Linked DNA regions of Homo sapiens: region 2 is linked to region 1. Evidence: fine-mapped expression QTL. A gene starts in region 1. The other region holds a variant in brackets. All regions are shown on one strand. Distances are between the middles of the regions.

Region 1 (9,049 bases):
GGTGGTGCACACCTGTAATCCCAGCTACTTGGGAGGCTGAGGCAGGAGAATTGCTTGAACCCGGGAGGCAGAGGTTGCAGCGAGCAGAGATCACACCATTGCACTCCAGCCTGGGCAACAAGAGAGAAACTCTGTCTTAAAAATAAAAAAGTAAAGTTGGCCGGGCGCGGTGGCTCAAGCCTCTAATCCCAGCACTTTAGGAAGCTGAAGTGGGCAGATCACCTGAGGTCAGGAGTTTGAGACCAGCCTGGCCACATGGCAAAACCCCATCTCTATTAAAAATACAAAAATTAGCCAGGCATGGTGGCTCACGCCTGTAGTCCCTGCTACTCAGGAGGGTGAGACAGGAGAATCGCTTGAACCCGAGTGGCAGAAGTTGCAGTGAGCAGAGATCACGCCACTGCACTGCTGCCTGGGCAACAGAGCGGGACTCTGTCTCAAAAAAAAAAAAAAAAAGAGTAAAGCCCGGACACACACTACAACATGAACAAACCTTGAAAACATGCTAACTGAAGAAGCCAGAGAGAAAAGGCTACATATTATGATTTTATTCATATGAAATGTCCCGAATAGACAAATCCATAGAAACCAAAAGTAGATTGGAGCTTTCTAGGGGTTGGCTGGGAGGAGTAAGAATGGGGAGTAACTGTTCACGGGTTCATGGAGTTCTTTTTTTTTTTTTTTTTTTTGAGATCAGGTCTCACTCTGTTGCCCAGGCTGGAGTGCAGTGGCACAATCAGGTCACTGCAGCCTTGACCTGCTGGACTCAGGTGATCCTCCCACCTCAACCTCCTAGGTAGCTATAGGTGCATGACACCACGCCCCACTAATTTTTGTATTTTTTTGTAGAGACGAGATTTTGCCCTGTTGTTCAGGCTGGTCTCAAACACCTCAGCTCAAGCGATCTGCCCATTTGGTCCAACTAAAGTGCTGGGATTACAGGGTTGAGCCACTGCACCTGGGCCAGAGTTTCTTTTTGGAGTGATGGAAATTTTCTAAAATTGATTGTGGTGATGGTTGTACAATTCTATGAATACACTAGAAACCAGTGAGTTGCACACTTTAAACAGGTAGATTGTATAGTACGTGAATTATATCTCAATAAAGCTGTTAGAGATATTAAATATGTATAAATAAGAAAAAATAGGAATGAAATAATATGCTATCATTTGAAAAAATGATAACATGTTATCTACTCTGGCAGGATATTCAAGAAACTTGGTAACAGCAATAGATGAGGTGGAAGAGGAGGCTAGGAAGAAGATTTAATTTTGGTATCATGTTCAAGTACTCCTATTCAAATAAGTTAAGTAACTCATTTTTTTTTAATTTGGAAAGCAGGTCTGGCGTGGTGGTTCATGCCTGTAATACCTGCACTTTGGGAGGCCGAGGCGGGTCATCACCTGAGGTCAGGAGTTTGAGACCAGCCTGACCAATATGATGAAACCCCGTCTCTACTAAAAATACAAAAATTAGCCGGGCGTGGTGGCATGCCCTTGTAATCCCAGCTACTCGGGAGGCTGAGACAGGAGAATCGCTTCAACCCGGGAGGCAAAGGTTGCAATGAGCCGAGATCGTGCCATCGCACTGCAGCCTGGGTGACAGAGCAAAACTCCGTCCAAAAAAAAAAAAATTGGAAAGCAATTTGGGCCTCGTTCCTGCGACCACAGCCCCAACCTGGGTCGGGGGTCCCAGTGACCTTACCCCTCCCTGCAGACCCCAGGACGGGCGGTCTTCAGGGCTAGGCGCCCTGGCTCTGCAAGGGCCCCAGTCTGGGGTTTGGCTCACCTGTGCCTCCGAAAACCACCACCAGTTTCTTGTCCACCATGAGGACGAGAATGGGACGAATCCGGTCCAGAGATCTGGGGGTAATGGGAGGCGTGGAGTTGGGGGTGGGGCCGGGGTTCCCGCCAGGAGCGACAAAGGACACCCCCATTGTCTATGCATCGAGTATGTGTCGAAGGGGGCGGCTGGGCCCGGAGCGGCAAGACGCCTGTCCCGAGATATCGGGGTCCCGCGACCCACCTCGTGTCCCTTGGGCCCGATCCCCTCCTCCTTCCCGCCTCCCCCGGTTCCAGTCACCCGCCCCCCGGCCCGGGTCCCACCGGCTGGAGTGACCTCCTCGCCGCGGCCTGGGCGGGACAAGTTCCAGGAGCCCGGGACCCCGATTCTGCGGCCGAGTCCACTGCAGAGGCGGGGATGGAGCTGCGCGCTAGGCGCCAACTCCCTCCCCGCAGCTCCGGCCCCACCTGGCAGAGCGCCGCTCACGGAAGCCCAGCGTCGGAGGACCCCTGGCTGCAGCCGCCAATCCCGACGTGTCGGCCGAAACCCCTCCTCCGGCGCAGTTGGCTCCTCCTGGATCCCGCGGGACTCGGCGTCGTTTCCGGGTTTGCCCGCCCCAGGCACGTGCACAGTGAGTTTGTGTAAATCCAGTTAGACCAAAATGAGCGAGGTGGAGAGCCTCTTAACCGGATGCTACGGGTGATGACTGGGAGGAGGAGAAAAATTACCTCTTTATCTTGCATGAACATCTTAATTTTCAGGTATTGGGCGTCAGGCAAAGATAATTAAAGCTATGTCCATGAGTCTTATCCCTTGAGGCCTTGTCCGCTTGATATTTTCTTTGCCTAACTCACTTTTAAAATTTTATTATTTTTATTTTTTTGAGACAGTGTCTTGGTCCGTCGCCCAGGCTGGTGTGCAGTGGCGCGATCTCGGCTTACTGCAACCTCCGCCCCCCGGGTTCAAGAGATTCTCCTGCCTCAGCCTCCCGAGTAGCTGGGATTACAAGCATGTGCCACCAAGCCCGGCTAATTTTTGTATTTTTTAGTAGAGACGGGGTTTCACCAGGTTGACCAGGCAGGTCTCGAACTCCTGACTTAAAGTGATCCACCCACCTCAGCCTCCCAAAGTGCTGGGAGTACAGGTGGGAGCCACCGTGCCCAGCCCTAACTCACTTCTGAAGTTGCTGCTACTTGCACTGATTTCAGTTTTTTTTTGTTTTTGTTTTTTGTTTTCAAGGTGGAGTCTTGCTCTGTGGCCCAGGCTGGAGTGCAGTGGTGGTGCGATCTTGGCTCACTGCAACTTCCGCCTCTTGGGTTCAAGTGATTCTCCTGCCTCAGTTTCCTGAGTAGCTGGGATTACAGGCAGGAGCCACCATGCCCGGCTAAAATTTTTTTGTATTTTTGGTAGAGACGGGGTTTCAACATGCTGGCCAGGCTGGTCTCGAACTGCTGACCTCAAGTGATCTTCCCGCCTCAGGCTCCCAAAGTGCTGGGATTACAGACATGAGCCACCACACCCGGCCCACGATTTCAGTAATTTCTTTGTGTTCAGTAAAACTAAAAAATGACTCTGGGCTGGGTGCGGTGGCCTGTAATTGCAGTGATTTGGGAGGCCGAGGCGGGTGGATCACCTGAGCTCAGGAGTTCGAGACCAGCCTGGCCAACATGGTGAAACCCCCGTCTCTACTAAAAATACAAAAATTAGCCGGGCGTGGTGGCAGGCGCTTGTAATCCCAGCTATTCGGGAGGTTAAGGCAGGAGAATCGCTTGAACCCGGGAGAAGGGGGTTGCAGTGAGCCGAGATCACGTCATTGCACTCCAGCCTGGGCGACGAGCAAAACTCGGTCTCAAAAAAAGAAAAATCATTCTGTCATTCTGGCCGCTGTTTGAAGAATGCGAATAATGCAACAGGGAGATCAGATACAAGACTGGTAACCGAGGTGTCAGAGTTGAGACTCAGTTTCGCAGATTGCATTGGCAAGTGACCAAGTGGGTGGTGCCACGGTTGACAACCCTATTTCTTACATCACTGAGTGGATGTACAAGGATTAAACCACACTGGGGAAGAAAAGTGCTCAACCCTGAGGCACCCTCACACACCTCGGCTCTTGTGAACACTAGTGTTCCTGCCGAAGCACGCCTACTTACCCCGCTGAGCAGAGCCTGAGCCTGCAACCTCCAGAGACCTGGGGAAAGCCACATACTCCGCTTCCCGCCCCCGGCAAGGGCGTGTCAGCTACAAGGGGCGTGTCATCTCTAGGCCCCGCCCCGCGCTGCGTGCCCACGTTGCGCCGGCCTCGCGCCAGTCCGCTGGGCTGCAGGGACTGCGGCGCCTGAGGGAGTCGCTGACGGGCACGCTGACTGGAGGCTGGCGGACAGGCGACAGCGACCTGCGGCAGGTGAGCTGTCCGCGCCCTCCCGGGGCCTTCCTTCCGCCCGGCTTCTCGGACCGCGCTGCGTCCTTCGCGGGCCCTGCCTCGGTCCAGGCCTTCGGACCTGGGCTTGGCCGGGCCACAGCCCTTTGGGTCCCCTGCGCCGGTCTGAGGGGAGACCCGGCCGGGGGCGGCCGGAAGCTGGGTGAGGCCGGGCAGAAGGACGAAGAAGGGCGTGGAGGGGCTGTCAGGGGAGGGCGAAACCGCGGACGCCGCTCTCCAGAAGTCGTCTCCCCGGGGGCGCGGGGAGGCCTGAATGGCTCTCTTTGGCGTCCCCGTTGGGCCCACCCTCTCCCAGCGTCACGGCTATGCTGGGCGAGGTGACCCCCGGGGTCGTAGCTGGGGGCGTCGGCGGTGCAGACAGGGGATGCCGGCAGAGATTGGAGCCCGGCTTGGCTGTTTCCCGGGCTGTTGGCATTGACCGGGGCTCTGCCCTTCCTCTAATGCCCTTATCTCTATAGGAAGTGCCCCTTGAGTGGGTGTCGTGACTTCACGAGTGAACCCTGGTACGCCCTGGAGCAGAGTCGGACTGGGAGGGATCAAGTGTGGGGGCAGCCGGTTAGTCCGGACGCGGGTTTACCTATTACTTTCTGAGCGCAGTGCTCTGGGTGGATTAATTGCCCTGCAAAAGCTGCCGGGACCTCCTTGCAGTCTTTGCACGAGGCCTGCCTGTGTCATGCCATTTAAATCGCGTCTGGGCCGGGTCGGTGGCTCACGCCTGTAATTCCAGCACTTTGGGAGGCCAGGGCGGGCGGATTGCTTGAGGTCAGGAGTCCGAGACCAGCCTGGCCAACATAGTGAAACCCCGTCTCTACTAAAAATACAAAAATCAGCCGGGCATGGTAACGTGAGCCTGTAGCTCCAGCTACTTAGGAGGCTGAGGCAGGAGAATCGCTTGAACCCGGGAGGCAGAGGTTGCAGTGAGCCGAGATCACGCCATTGCACTCCAGCCTGGGCGACAGAGCAAGACTCCATCTAAAAAAAAAAAAAAAAAAAAAAAAAATCGCTTCTGATGAGCCGGTTGTCGTGGCCTGTGGCTGTCCATCCTTACGTACTGTGTTTTGTTGATGGCGCTACAAACCAGACAAGGTGGAGTGTGATTGAAGAAAGAAACGCTGGCCGGTGCAGTGGCTCACTCCTGTAATCCCAGCACTTTGGGAGGCCGAGGCAGGCGGATCACCTGAGGTCAGGAGTTCGAGATCAGCCTGGCCAACATGGTGAAACCCCGTCTCTACTAAAAATACAAAAAAGTTAAACGGGCGGGGTGGCGCGTGTCTGTAATCCCAGCTACTGGGGAGTTTGAGGTTGGAGGATCACTTGAGCCCACGAAGTGGAGATTGCAGTGAGCTGAGATCGCATCACTGCACTCCAGCCTGGGTGACAGAGTGAGACCCTGTCTCAAAAAAGAAAAAAATAAATTATCACAAGACAAAATTTGTGCTTATCAGGAGTTCACAGTTAAGACATATATAAGCTTACTTGGTGAAATTAGAAAAAGTTATCAGATAAAACATTCAGGTTTAAACACTGGTGAGGGTGTGGGAATTTGTGGAGCCTTGGAAACACACTCATTGAATGACCTCATCTACCTGGGGATGTGAAGAGGGAAATCCTGTGATTCCTCCATTGTCTGACTTGATTTCCTTTTTTCCTTGGCTGTGGCAACATGTTGAAGTGCTGTGAGTCACCAAAAGGGGGAACGTGAGCAACTCTAGAAATGCCAGTGCCAGTGAGTTACAGACAATAAAGCATTGACCGCCTTTAGCTCACCCCTCATCAAGTCTGTTGAAAACTTGTAAAATTGGACAGCTAGAGCTACCTTGATTTTTTGGTTTCCTTTTAACAGCTGACTCTCTTCACAGGACAGTTGGGCTCTACATCAGGATTGCACCCAAAACTGGAATATCACTCCTCCAGGAGGAAGATATATTTGAAAATTAGAATTGTGGGCCCGGTGCAGTGGCTCATGCTTGTGATCCCAGCACTTTGGGAGGCCGAGATGGGCGGATCACCTGAGGTCGGGAGATAGAGACCAGCCTGACCAACATGGAAAAACCCCATCTCTACTAAGAAAAAAATAATAATAATACAAAAATTAGCTGGGCATGGTGGTGTGTGCCTGTAATCCGAGCTACTTGGGAGGCCGAGGCAGGAGAATCACTTGAACCTGGGAGGCAGAGGTTGCGATGAGCCAAGATTGTGCCACTGCATTCCAGCCTGGGCAACAGGAGCAAAACTGCATCTCAAAAAAAAAAAAAAGAAAGAAAGAAAATTAGAATTGTGTATTTCACTGTAAAATTTGAAATTCAGCTTTAACTCCTTGGAAAGGAAAGAGATGAAAAACTTGACCTAGACTGGGTGCGGTGGCTCACGCCTGTAATCCCAGCACTTTGGGAGACCAAGGCGGGTGGATCACCTGAGGTCAGGAGTTCGAGACCAGCCTGGCTAACATTGTGAAACCCCGTCTCTACTAAAAATACAAAAATTAGCCTTGCAAAAAGTAGCCTGTAATCCCAGCTACTCGGGAGGCTGAGCAAGGAGAATTGCTTGAACCTGGGAGGCAGAGGTTTCAGTGAGCCAAGATCATGCCATTGCACTCCAGCCTGGGCGACAAGAGCAAAACTTCATCTCAAAGAAAAAAAAATTCTATCAGAGTGAACAATAAGTAGGATGCTAGCACATACCTGTAATCTCAGCTACTTGGGAGGCTGAGGCAGGAAGTTAATACTTGATGAGCCTAAGTTTTTGGTGTCTTTGGATGCTGCTTGTCGATCTAAGGGGTTTCCAAACGCTTCTTTTTTGGTAAAATTGGGATTATGACTAGGAATCTGTTTTTTGGAGTTTCCCAGGTGATCCTTGTTTGGGGTCCTTGTCTAAGGCACAGGCTGGAAAGAGGAGGGAGTGGACTGGCAGGGAAGATAGAGCAGTAAGCGAATAGAATACCTGGGGAAAGGGACGCCAGAAGAGTGATTGTTGTCTGGTGAACTGTGCTGTCAGTGTGTATGTCAGAAGCCAACAAAGTGGATATTCTCTTCACTCAGCTTAGGGAAAAAATTAATTTTTGTTTCACAGATAGATTCGTTTCCTTCCCAGGAGTATTATAGGCCTAATTACTGTCATAGTTCTCAGTAACTTTAAAAAGGCTGTGGGGAAGAATGGCATAACAGACTAGTATCTTGTACCCAGCCTGCCTTTTTCTTATTCTATTTTTTTTTTTTTTTTTTTTTTTTTTTTTTTTGAGACAGTCTTGCTCTGTCACCCAGGCTGGAGTGTGGTGGCACAATCTCAGCTCACTGCAACCTCCGCCTCCTGGGTTCAAGCGATTCTCCAGCCTCAGTCTCCTGAGTAGCTGGGATTACAGGCGTATGCCACCATGCCTGGCTAATTTTTGTATTTTTAGTAGAGATGAGGTTTCACTATGTTGGCCGGGCTGGTCTCCTACTCCTGACCTCAGGTGATCCGTCCACCTTGGCCTCCCAAAGTGCTGGGGTTATAGGCATGAGTCGCTGCGCCCGGCTTTTTTATTTTTTATTTTTTATTTTTTTGAAACAGAGTCTGGCTCTTTCACCCAGGCTGGAGTACAGTGATCTGATCTGAGCTCACTGCAATCTCTGCCTCTGGGGTTCAAGCAGTTCTCCTGCCTCAGCCTTCCAAGTAACTGGGACTACAGGCATGCACCACCATGCCTGGCTAATTTTTGTACTTTTGGTAGAGATGGGGTTTCGCCATGTTGGCCACGCTGGTCTCCAGCTCCTGACCTCAAGCGAACCACCCTCCTTGGCCTCCCAAAGTGCTAGTATTACAGGCGTGAGCCACAGCACCCGGCCTTTTTTTTTTTTTTTTCCTTAGAGTCTTGCTCTGTCACCAGGGCTGGAGTGCAGTGGCGCCGTCTCGGCTCACTGCAACCTCTGCCTCCTGGGTTCAAGTGATTCTCCTTCCTCAGCCTCCCTAGTAGCTGGGATTACAGGTGTGTGCCACCACACCCAGTTAATTTTTGTATTTTTAGTAGAGACGGGGTTTCACCATGCTGGCCAGGCTGGTCTCAAACTCCTGACCTCAAGTGGTCCACCCACTTTGGCCTCCCAATTAGAATTAGAGGTGGAGCGACCGTGCCCGGCTAAGGGCCTACTATTTTTTTTTTTTTTTTTTGAGACAGAGTTTCACTCTTGTCACCCAGGCTGGAGTGCAGTGGTGTGACCTTGGTTCACTGCAACTTCCACCTCCCAGGTTTAAGCGATTCTCCTGCCTCAGCCTCTGGAGAAGCTGGGATTATAGGCGTCTGCCACCACGCCTGGCTAATTTTTTGTATTTTTAGTAGAGACGGGGTTTCACCATGTTAGTCAGGCTGGTCTCAAACTTCTGATGTCAGGTGATCCACCTACCTCGGCCTCCCAAAGCATTGGGATTACAGGCGTGAGCCACCGCGCCCGGCCAGGCCTCGTATTTTTGCTTTTGCTCATGTTTTCATGTCTGAGATAGAGGGCCTACTATTAAAGCACTGTGCTGAGGCTGCAAGAAGGTACTAGTGTGATTAAAACAATCTGGTCCGGGCGCGGTGGCTCGCACCTGTAATCCCAGCACTTTGGGAGGCGGAGGCGGGCGGATCACGAGGTCAGGAGATCGAGACCATGCTGGCTAACACGGTGAAACCCCGTCTCTACTAAAAAATACAAAAAAAATTAGCCGGGCATGGTGGCGGGCGCCTGTAGTCCCGGCTACTCGGGAGGCTGAGGCAGGAGAATGGCGGGAACCCGGGAGGCGGAGCTTGCAGTAAGCAGAGATCGCGCCACTGCGCTCCAGCCTGGGAGACAGAGCGAGACTCCGTCTCAAAAA
Region 2 (9,049 bases), 21 kb after region 1:
CCTAAGTGGATGTGACCACAACTGCATGCCACTCCCTCCACCCCCGTCTGCCTACCAGCTAATTCAAAAAAATTTTTTTTTGTAGAGATGGGGTCTCCCTGTGTTGCCCAGGTCAGTCTCAAACTCCTAGGCTCAAGCAATCCTCCTGCCTTGGCTTCTCAAAGTGCTGGGATTACAGACATGAGCCACTGGGCTCAGCCATTAATTTTAAATTGCAAGTGACATATTCTTTAGTTTATTAATCAGCACCATATGATGTCACAGTTTTATAACTCATTTATCTCATTTAATTCTCATACCCACCTTGTGGAATTGTTATCACTGTCCTTTACAGATGAAGAAAGAAACTCCAAGAAATTAAGTAGCTGGCCCAAGTCCACCCAACTGGGATGGGCAGAACCAGGGTTTGCTCTTGGTTGTGCCTTTCTACAGCCTGTGCCTTAACCACATCTATGTGCTGCCTCTTGGCCTCTGTGTGGCCAGTAGATTCTCTCATGGCTAGGCTCATCTTAATTAACATTTGTTGGGTGCCTACTATGGCTCAGGCTCTAGAGATCATTGTAAAATCCAGTCCACTGCCCCAGCTCCTCGTGTGTCTTTTGAACACATTAGTATTGTGCTGTGCAGAAAGGACTTCTGTGCATATGCCTGCTATTACACTTGTTGAACCCAATTTCTACAAACTTTCATTCAGATGGAGGGATTCAGTCTTCTTATCATATAATACATACAGAAATACAAATATTTAAATATTTATCTAAATTAATAGTCACATATGCCATTTATACAGTTAGTGAGTTACAGCCAAGTGACAGTTGTGATGGGAGGCTGTGTCTGGGGAGTTACATACTGGTGAGGAAACTAGAAAACATGGCTGTCGGGCCGGCACTGTGGCTCACGCCTGTAATCCCAGCACTTTGGGAGGCCGAGGCGGGTGGATCACGAGGTCAGGAGATCGAGACCATCCTGGCTAACACGGTGAAACCCCGTATCTACTAAAAATACAAAAAATTAGCGGGGCGTGGTGGTGGGCGCCTGTAGTCTCAGCTACTCAGGAGGCTGAGGCAGGAGAATGGCATGAACCCGGGAGGTGGAGCTTGCAGTGAGCCGAGATAGCACCACTGCACTCCAGTCTGGGCGACAGAGTGAGACTCTGCCACAAAAAAAAAAAAAAAGAAAACAAGGCTATGAAAATTTAACACATTGACTGGGCAGGGTAATGCATGGTGATCTGTTTTCTCTTCGCTCCAATCCTGAAAGGTTTCTTTGAAGAGCTGGAGTGTCTAGAAAGCTTTCCTAGAAAGCTAGTGTACATTTTGCTAAGTAATCACTGTGTCACTTAGATTTTCTGCTCTTTAAGTGTGGTTATGAGATGTGTTCCAAACAATTTGTTACTAACCATGAAGTTGATGAATGCTTTGCCTTTAAAAAAATAAGTTTGGGTGGGGTGCAGTGGCTCATGCTTGTATTCCCAGCATTTTGGGAGGCTGAGGCAGGCAGATCGCTTGAGTCCAGGAGTTTGAGACCAGCCTGGACAACATGGTGAAACCCTGTCTTTACTAAAAATACAAAAATTAGCCAGGTGTGGTGGCGTGTGCCTGTAGTCCCAGCTGCTTTGGGGGCTGAAGCAGGAGGATCACTTGAGCCTGGGAAATCCAGGCTGCAGTGAGCTATGATCACACCACTGCACTCCAGCCTGCGTGAAAAAGTGAGACTGTCTAAAAAAAAAAAGTTTGGCCAGGCATGGTGGTTCATACCTGTAATCACAGCACTTTGGGAGGCCAAAGTGGGAGGATTGTTGAGGCTAGGAGGTCAAGACCAGTCTCGGTTTGATTGGGTTAAACATTATCCCTGTAAGTTGGCTCTCATTCTGAGAAGTTGTTTAGAGTAGAAGAGAGGGCTGCATTTACAGCTAATTGCTAGTAATTTCACATCATCTGCAATATATTTTCTGGACACTCTGCCCGACTAGTCCTATGGGACGTTGTCATTCATGTGCAAATCAGGCCCTATATACTAAGGGAGGAAAACAGTTGAGGACCTCCTTTTTTTAGGCACTCTTGGTGCCTTGTGCATTAAGATAGTGAGTCAGAGGATAAGAAGGAAGCAGATTCCATTCCCCTTACCACTCTTTGGGTGTAGGCAGGGCCTGCTGGTAGTGCTGGGAAAGCCGACCATCCTTCTTTGAGCAAGTCCAATAGCTGCTGCTGCTAGTTCTGTCCCACCATAGGCACAGTCTATGTAGGATGAGCCAACCATATGTGGAGTTACTGGTTCTTGGTCTGGGCTTGTTCCTTTCCCCAATTTCAGTCCCCACCAGAATCTGGGCAGTCATTGTGAAGAAGCCTAGGAATAATACCTTACTCTATAGGCCTGTGGAAACGTGTAAAGATACCTTGCAGGCCCAGAGTGAGAAATTGGAGCCACCTTGTTCGATTGACCAAAGGCTTGTCCTATGGAGTTACTAATTTTACAGGAAGTTTATGTTAACATACTTTCTATCCATTGCACTACCATTTCTGAGGCACAATATATTTCAGTAGGCAGAAAGATAGAACTGCTTAGATTTTAAATACTCAATACATGCTTGACACAGTTTAGTCTATTTCTCTTCAGTTACTATGGCAGTGGGTGCTATAGAGATGTGCAGACCCTATTGTGACCTCCCTTTGGTATAGGGATGCTCTGGAGCCCCTGGCTTCATTGTCCACTAAGGTCTGGCAGGTCTGATTGCCTCTTTTCAGGCACTGAGTGGTGGGGTATGCCATCCTCCCCTGCTGGAACCAGCCTTGGCCTGCCCTGTTAGTCATCAAAAATAGATCTCACCAGGGAACAATCTTCTCAGGTTGTTGTGTAATTTGAGTGAGCCAAGGTGAGTGTTTTAGGGACAAGCAGCATCAACTTCGGAATCTTCAACTGGGCCTGAGCACTTATTTCTCAGAAATAATAGAATCTTGCTCACTTTTCTTTCTTTTTTTTTTTTTTTTTAGATGGAGTCTCGCTCTGTTGCCCAGGCTGGAGTGCAGTGGATCAGTCTAGCTCATTGCAGCCTCCACCTCCTGGGTTCAAGAGATTCTCCTGCCTCAGCCTCCTGTGTAGCTGGGATTACAGGTGTGCGCCACCACGCCTGGCTAATAATTCTATTTTTAGTAGAGTTGGGGTCTCACCATGTTGGCCAGGCTGCTCTCGAACTCCTGACCTCAAGTGATCTGCCCGCCTCGGCCTCCCAAAGAGCTGGGATTATAGGTGTGAGTCACCATGCCTGGCCTCTTGCTCACTTTTCATACTAAAACAACAAATTACAGGCTGTAGTTTAACCTCTCTACTGCATGCATAAATGCAGTGTGGTACGAGTGCCTCTGTAGCCCATAACTTCAGTTTCCTTGTTGCTAGCAGTCTGTGGTGACACTATACTAATCTCACATGCAGGAACCAATGAGGATTAGCCAGGGACACAGGAGGAGTCACCTTGCATTCAGAATGACTCAAGTTTAGTCTCAACTTGACCATTAGCTCTCTGAGTGATCTTGCCCATGTTAATTCTCTTGATCTTAGTTTCTTCAGAGCCAGTGAGACATTGCTTGAAAGTGACTTAGCCTGGTATACCCAGGTCTGTCAGACTTATAGTCTGGTGCTCTCTTGGGTGAACTTGAGGGCCTTCTGCCAAGGCAGGAATGGCTTCTTTTAAAAAAAAATTATTTTATTATTATTTTTTTTTTTGTAGAGACGGGGGGTCTCACTATGTTTCCTAGGCTGGTCTCAAACTCCTGGACTCAAGTGATCCTTCAGCCTCGGCCTCCCAAAGTACAGAGATTATAGGTGTGAGCTACCAGTACCAGCCTCCAGGAATGGCTTCTAAGGCTTCAGGCTGTTTATAGAGAGGAAAGCACCTGGGAGCTGATGGCACTCTCAGGTTTCCCAAAATGACAGTTCTGCATATGCATCTTAATCACCTACTTTTTTTCCCTCCACCCCCAAATGCTATTCACAGTCCTTGTTTATGATAGAAGCTGAAGCTTACAGGTGACAATTTTTGTGCCTGTATGAAAGGAAACATGACTGACTCCACTTATCCACACGACACCTGCTTTCAAGGTTGTTCAGTGTTGGAATAATTTTTGCTTGATGGTAACCTAGGGATGACCCAAGGTTTCATTAGTTAAAGCCAGCCCTGTGGGATGCATGAAGTCTAGCCTCTGTCCCTGTAAAAATCCCACCAGAACCATTTTAGAATTCACTCAGGACTTCACCCCTCCCGCTCCTGGTGCTGCTTATGGAACTAAAGAATCCTCATCTTCTCAGCCCTGGGACACATTGTCCTCATATAAAGCGAGGTGGCAATCAGGGAACAGGGGCGAGTCTTGTGCTTATTTCAGTTATAATAGGAAGGCTCTACCAGGACTCATCATTGTCCCAACAATAGTCGATTCCAGGCCCCTTCTTTGAACTCATTTCAGTGTCTCAGGTTCTGTCCTTGGTGTCTGTCTTCACTGCTTGCTCAGTTGTATTTGAACATGGCTAGAGATGAGCACACTTCTCTTCTCCAGTAAAAAAGCCTGCAAGAAAAGTCTTGGACTTCTTGAACTGCTATTCAGTTGTCTTTTTTATTCAATGTATTTTTTGAGATGG[A/AG]GGGGGTCTCACTTTGTTGCCCAGGATGGTGTTGAACTCCTGGCCACAAGTGATCCTTCTGCCTCAGAGTTCCAAAGTGCAGAGATTACAGGCTTGAGCTACCACAACCGGTCTCTTGTCAGTTTTTGAGGTTACTTAAGAGGTTAATGCCTTTAAATTAGTTTGCAGTTGTTTTGCTTTTGCCTGCCTTCTTGCCCAAATGCGCAAGTGCTTATTTAGTAATCTGACTCAAGTGCTTTGTGTCCCCAGAGTCCCCACTTTTCCAGGATTCATTGTCTTTTTTTTTTTTTTTTTTTTTTTGAGACACAGTCTTGCTCTGTTGTGCAGGCTGGAGCGCAGTGGCACTGTCGGCTCACTGCAACCTCCACCTCCTAGGTTCCAGAAATTCTCGTGCCTCAGCCTCCCAAGTATTTGGGATTAGAGTCACACACCACCACACCTGGCTAATTTTTTTATATTTTTAGTAGAGATGGGGTTTTGCCATGTTGGCCAGGCTGGTCTTGAATGCCTGACCTCAGGTGATCTACCCGCTCGGCCTCCCAAAGTGCTGGGATTACAGACATGAGCCACCACACCCGGCTGGATTCAGTCTTAACTTGCTCTTTTTTTTTTTTTGCATCTCACTCCCTTGCCAGGCTGGAGTGCAACGGTGTGATCATAGTTCACTGCATCCTTGAACTCCTGGGGTCAAAAGATCCTCTTGCCCCAGTTTCCCGAGTGGTTGGGACTACAGGTGTGTGTCACCACGCCTGGCTAATTATTTTATTTTTCGTAGAGACAAGGTCTGACTGTGTTGCCCAGGCTAGTCTTGAGCTCCTAGGCTTAGGTGATCCTCCCACCTTGGCCTCCCAAAGTGTCAGGATTATAGGTGTGAGCCACTGCACCCAGCCTGGATTTGCTCTTTTATCAAGAGGTTAATATTTATTCTTCCGTTCAGTGAACCGTGGGATTGAATTCCCCCAGCGATTGAAATGAAAGGGCTTATGTATAACATTTCCTGAGGAATGGTAGTACCAGAGTTCAGAGGAGACCTCAGGCCATTTATTCTATAAACTCAGAAGCTGTAGTTCTAGATGATGTGGCTTCTTCAGGGTGTTGAGAAGTCTCTGTTATCTCGTGCCTTGTTGGATTAGAACTGATTGAGCTCTGTCTGCTGCCCCAAACATGTGGCTCAGCCAATCTCCAGTGGCATCTGCAATGTGGGTATTCTAGCCTCCAGTGCTCACGTGGCTCACCTTAGAAAGGGCAGATATTCCTATTTCCTGACGCTGCTGGAGAATGAGGTCTGAGTCAGAAGTCCTCAGGTGTGACCTGCCCAGAACTATCTGAAATTGCTGGATTTCTTGTTCTTCCTCAGTGTTTAACAATCACCCAATTGCTCATTCTCACCAGCGACTTCCTCAGTAAGAGCTCAATATTTGAGGTGGTGCTGCATTTTGTCAAACATTCATGCGTGTTAGCCCACTTAGTCTTCGCAGCACACAGTGGATTAATGGATTTTTAAAAGCTGGTATTTATGCACGATGGAATACTACTCAACCATAAACAAGAAGGAAATTCTGTCATTTGTGACTACATGGATGCATCTAGAGGACATTATGCTAAGTGAAGTAAGCCAAAGAAAGAAAGACAAATGGTGCATGATATCACTTATATGTGAAATCTGAAAAAGTCAGTTATAGAAGGAGAGTGTAACATGTTGGTTACCAGCGGCTGGGGGAAGGGAAGGGTGGGTGTGGAAAGGGGAGATGTTGATCAAAGGGTACAAAATTTCAGTTAGGAGAAATAAGGTCTGATGATCTGCCTTACAGCATGGTGACTATAGTTAATATGGTTAATATTATAATAGTATTGTATACTTCAAAATTGGTAAAAGAGTGGATTTTAAAAGTTGTCACCACAAAGAAATGATAAGCATGTGAGCTGATGGATATGTTAATAACCCTGATTTAATTATTCCCCAATGTATACATGTGTCCAAACATCACACTGTACCCCATAAATATAATTGTCAGTTAAAAACTTAGGAGTCAAGTCAGATCTGAAGAGAAGTCAAAACAGATTTCATACAGTTAATTTAGAGACATGGGACCCAATTAAAAATTTGTATTACTTTACTTGGTATTTTAGAATTTAGCTGTTATTTTCTTGTTACACACACAGGCACAGGCACACAAATCCTCTATTTAACTGGCTTTCTCAGTAGGAACTCCATCTGTGTATTTGCAACAGCTGTAACTCAGGTTGGATGCTCCCCAGGGTGCTGGCCTATAAGTCATATTGGACCCTGATCTGAATCTGAGGGAATCTGGATCTCTCTTGTAGGAAGCTTTTGGTTTAACTGGGAAGACAGGATGACAGTCAGTTGTGGAAGCTGAAGCGTAATCACCTCATATTAATATGGTGGCAATTTTATATCGGAGTGAGCTCTGAGCTGCAAACAGCCTTCTAGGAAGCAGGCAGGGGACCCCCATCCAGGGTGATGGTAAGAATCCTGATGCCCAACTGCAAGGTGTTCAGCAGGGAGGGAGCACTCGTGGAGTCCCAGTGCAGAAGTCTCTGAGCAGCCACTTAGCCTCCCTGTGTTTGTGGGGTAACAACCCGAGTTCATGTTGTGGGCATCTCATGCAGTGTAGTAGCTGGTCACTGTCAAGTGTCACTATTTCATTGAGTCAGAAGCCTGCAGAATTGTTCTCATTCCAGGGAGTGAGTCAGTCTGCTGTTGCTTACTCTCGGTGCTGGCTGAGCTCAGCAACCTGCTCTCTTCCTTCAGTTCAGGTTTCTCCAGGGCAAAGAAGTCTTTATTGTTCCTTTCTGTATGACCAGATGGGAAATGAATTATAATATAGTCCTTAGATTATATTCCCACCTGGTAGCAATGCACTGAGTTACCTGACCTGAAATTTGTTGGACTTAGTCTCCATGGAGGAGGATTTACCATCTTCGTTGTCTCAGAAGTCCTGGTAGTGCCTCATGCCAGCAATTTAGCAGGAGCAAAAGCTTTGAGACAGTGTTCTGGATCTGCTGAGCTGGTCTAAAGGAACCTCTTTTGCTTGAAGTAACTGTGATAGGAACTTTGTTACTGCTTCTGTTAGCTCAGGTGTTGGAATGAGAATCAGCAGCTGATGAGGTGAACAGCTAGGAGTACTGGAATTATGGAGTAGTGGAGGTAGATTTTATAAACAGAGGGTCCCAGTTTTTTGGAAATGGGAAAGAGAGAGGGTAGACTGGCCTTTCTAGAATTTGTAACAGAAAAGAGGACCCAGGAGCTTCCATTGACTAGTTAGTTAATGCAGTGCGGGATCTTAGCTGGTTTGCTTGGTCCAATTCCTGTCTCTCGGTTTCTTTTTTCCCTTCCCTTCGCTGCCTTCCCCTCCCTCTTCCCTTTTTCTTTCCAAGAGAATTGAGTCACTCCATATAAAAGAAGCAGCCAGTTGGCTAAAAAGTCCAACAAAAAACAAGTATTTATAGCTCTCCAAATTTCCCACTTGTCATTATCAGTATACTTTTGCACACAGTTATAGTCGGTGTTTGGGATCCTTTTTAAAAAAATAAAAAGTTTCTGTAGGCTTTTCCATGCATGAACACAGCTTATCAACTTGCCCCGGCTGTGCCAGGATTCCATTGTTGACTGTTGTTTGAGCAGTCATGCCCTTTGTTCTTAGGCTGTGTGTTGTTTTTTTCCTAACATCATAGTATGGCTGGGTATTATTTTGATACAGATTACAATTACTATTACTATTTCTTGAAGTGTATTTCCCAGAGTGGAATATTTTAGGATCTTTTTTTCTCTTTTGTGGGGGTGGGGAACATGTAGCTTCTTGTGGATATTAGACATTGAAGTCTAAAAAGGTTCTATATTTATGATTTGGCCCTCAATTTTCTAGAGATTCCAATGGTTCCTGCAAAGAAAAGAGCATTCAAGTATAGAAACCAGCCAGACTAAGTCTGGACATGTAGCTTTTCAGAAAGTGAAAAAAAATTATGTTTCTGCAGTTGCAAGGTGGCCTCTGAATGCCACACTGTGTGGCCACTCCCTTGGACAGTGGCTAGGCCACAGGGTCGCCTCCCCTGGCCCCAGTCTGTGGGTTGAATATGCTAACCGAGCCTTCCCAGGAGCCTCCTCTGCCCCCAGCCCCCAGGTCTGTACAGATGGTAGTTGGTACTTTCAGCCCGCCTTGAGAACTCAGTATTCTTCCTGTTAGCTTTCCTTCAAAGTAAAATCGGTAGAACCTATTTTGAGTGTAGAAAATTTGAAGTCGTGGACAGCAGATTACAAAAAATTGCCCACCACCATGCCTGGCTCATTTTTGTATTTCTAGTAGAGATGGGCTTTCACCATGTTGGCCAGGCTGGTCTCGAACTGCTGACCTCAGGTGATCTGCCCACCTCGGCCTCCCTAAATGCTGGGATTATAGGT

The links. PIP is the estimated chance that this variant, and not a neighbour inherited with it, causes the effect.
Region 2: its variant is the best candidate, but not a certain one, in a credible set for the expression of HMOX2 in blood mononuclear cells (TOPMed, PIP 0.79).

What each region holds. Positions count from the first base shown.
Region 1 is chr16:4,472,305-4,481,353 of GRCh38, forward strand. HMOX2 (heme oxygenase 2) reads left to right here and starts at 4,094. Exons shown (of 6, transcript NM_002134.4): 1 at 4,094-4,183. NMRAL1 (NmrA like redox sensor 1) reads right to left here and starts at 2,321. Exons shown (of 6, transcript NM_020677.6): 1 at 2,250-2,321; 2 at 1,789-1,862. The coding sequence starts at 1,828. LOC124903636 (a long non-coding RNA gene) reads right to left here. Exons shown (of 3, transcript XR_007064964.1): 3 at 6,960-7,257. RefSeq lists an enhancer at 3,890-4,391.
Region 2 is chr16:4,493,156-4,502,204 of GRCh38, forward strand. All of the region lies in intron 1 of HMOX2 (heme oxygenase 2), which reads left to right. It overlaps LOC124903636 (a long non-coding RNA gene), which reads right to left and starts at 2,535. Exons shown (of 3, transcript XR_007064964.1): 1 at 2,127-2,535. RefSeq lists silencers at 732-921, 7,153-7,447. The variant A/AG (reference allele first, on the strand shown) is at 4,630.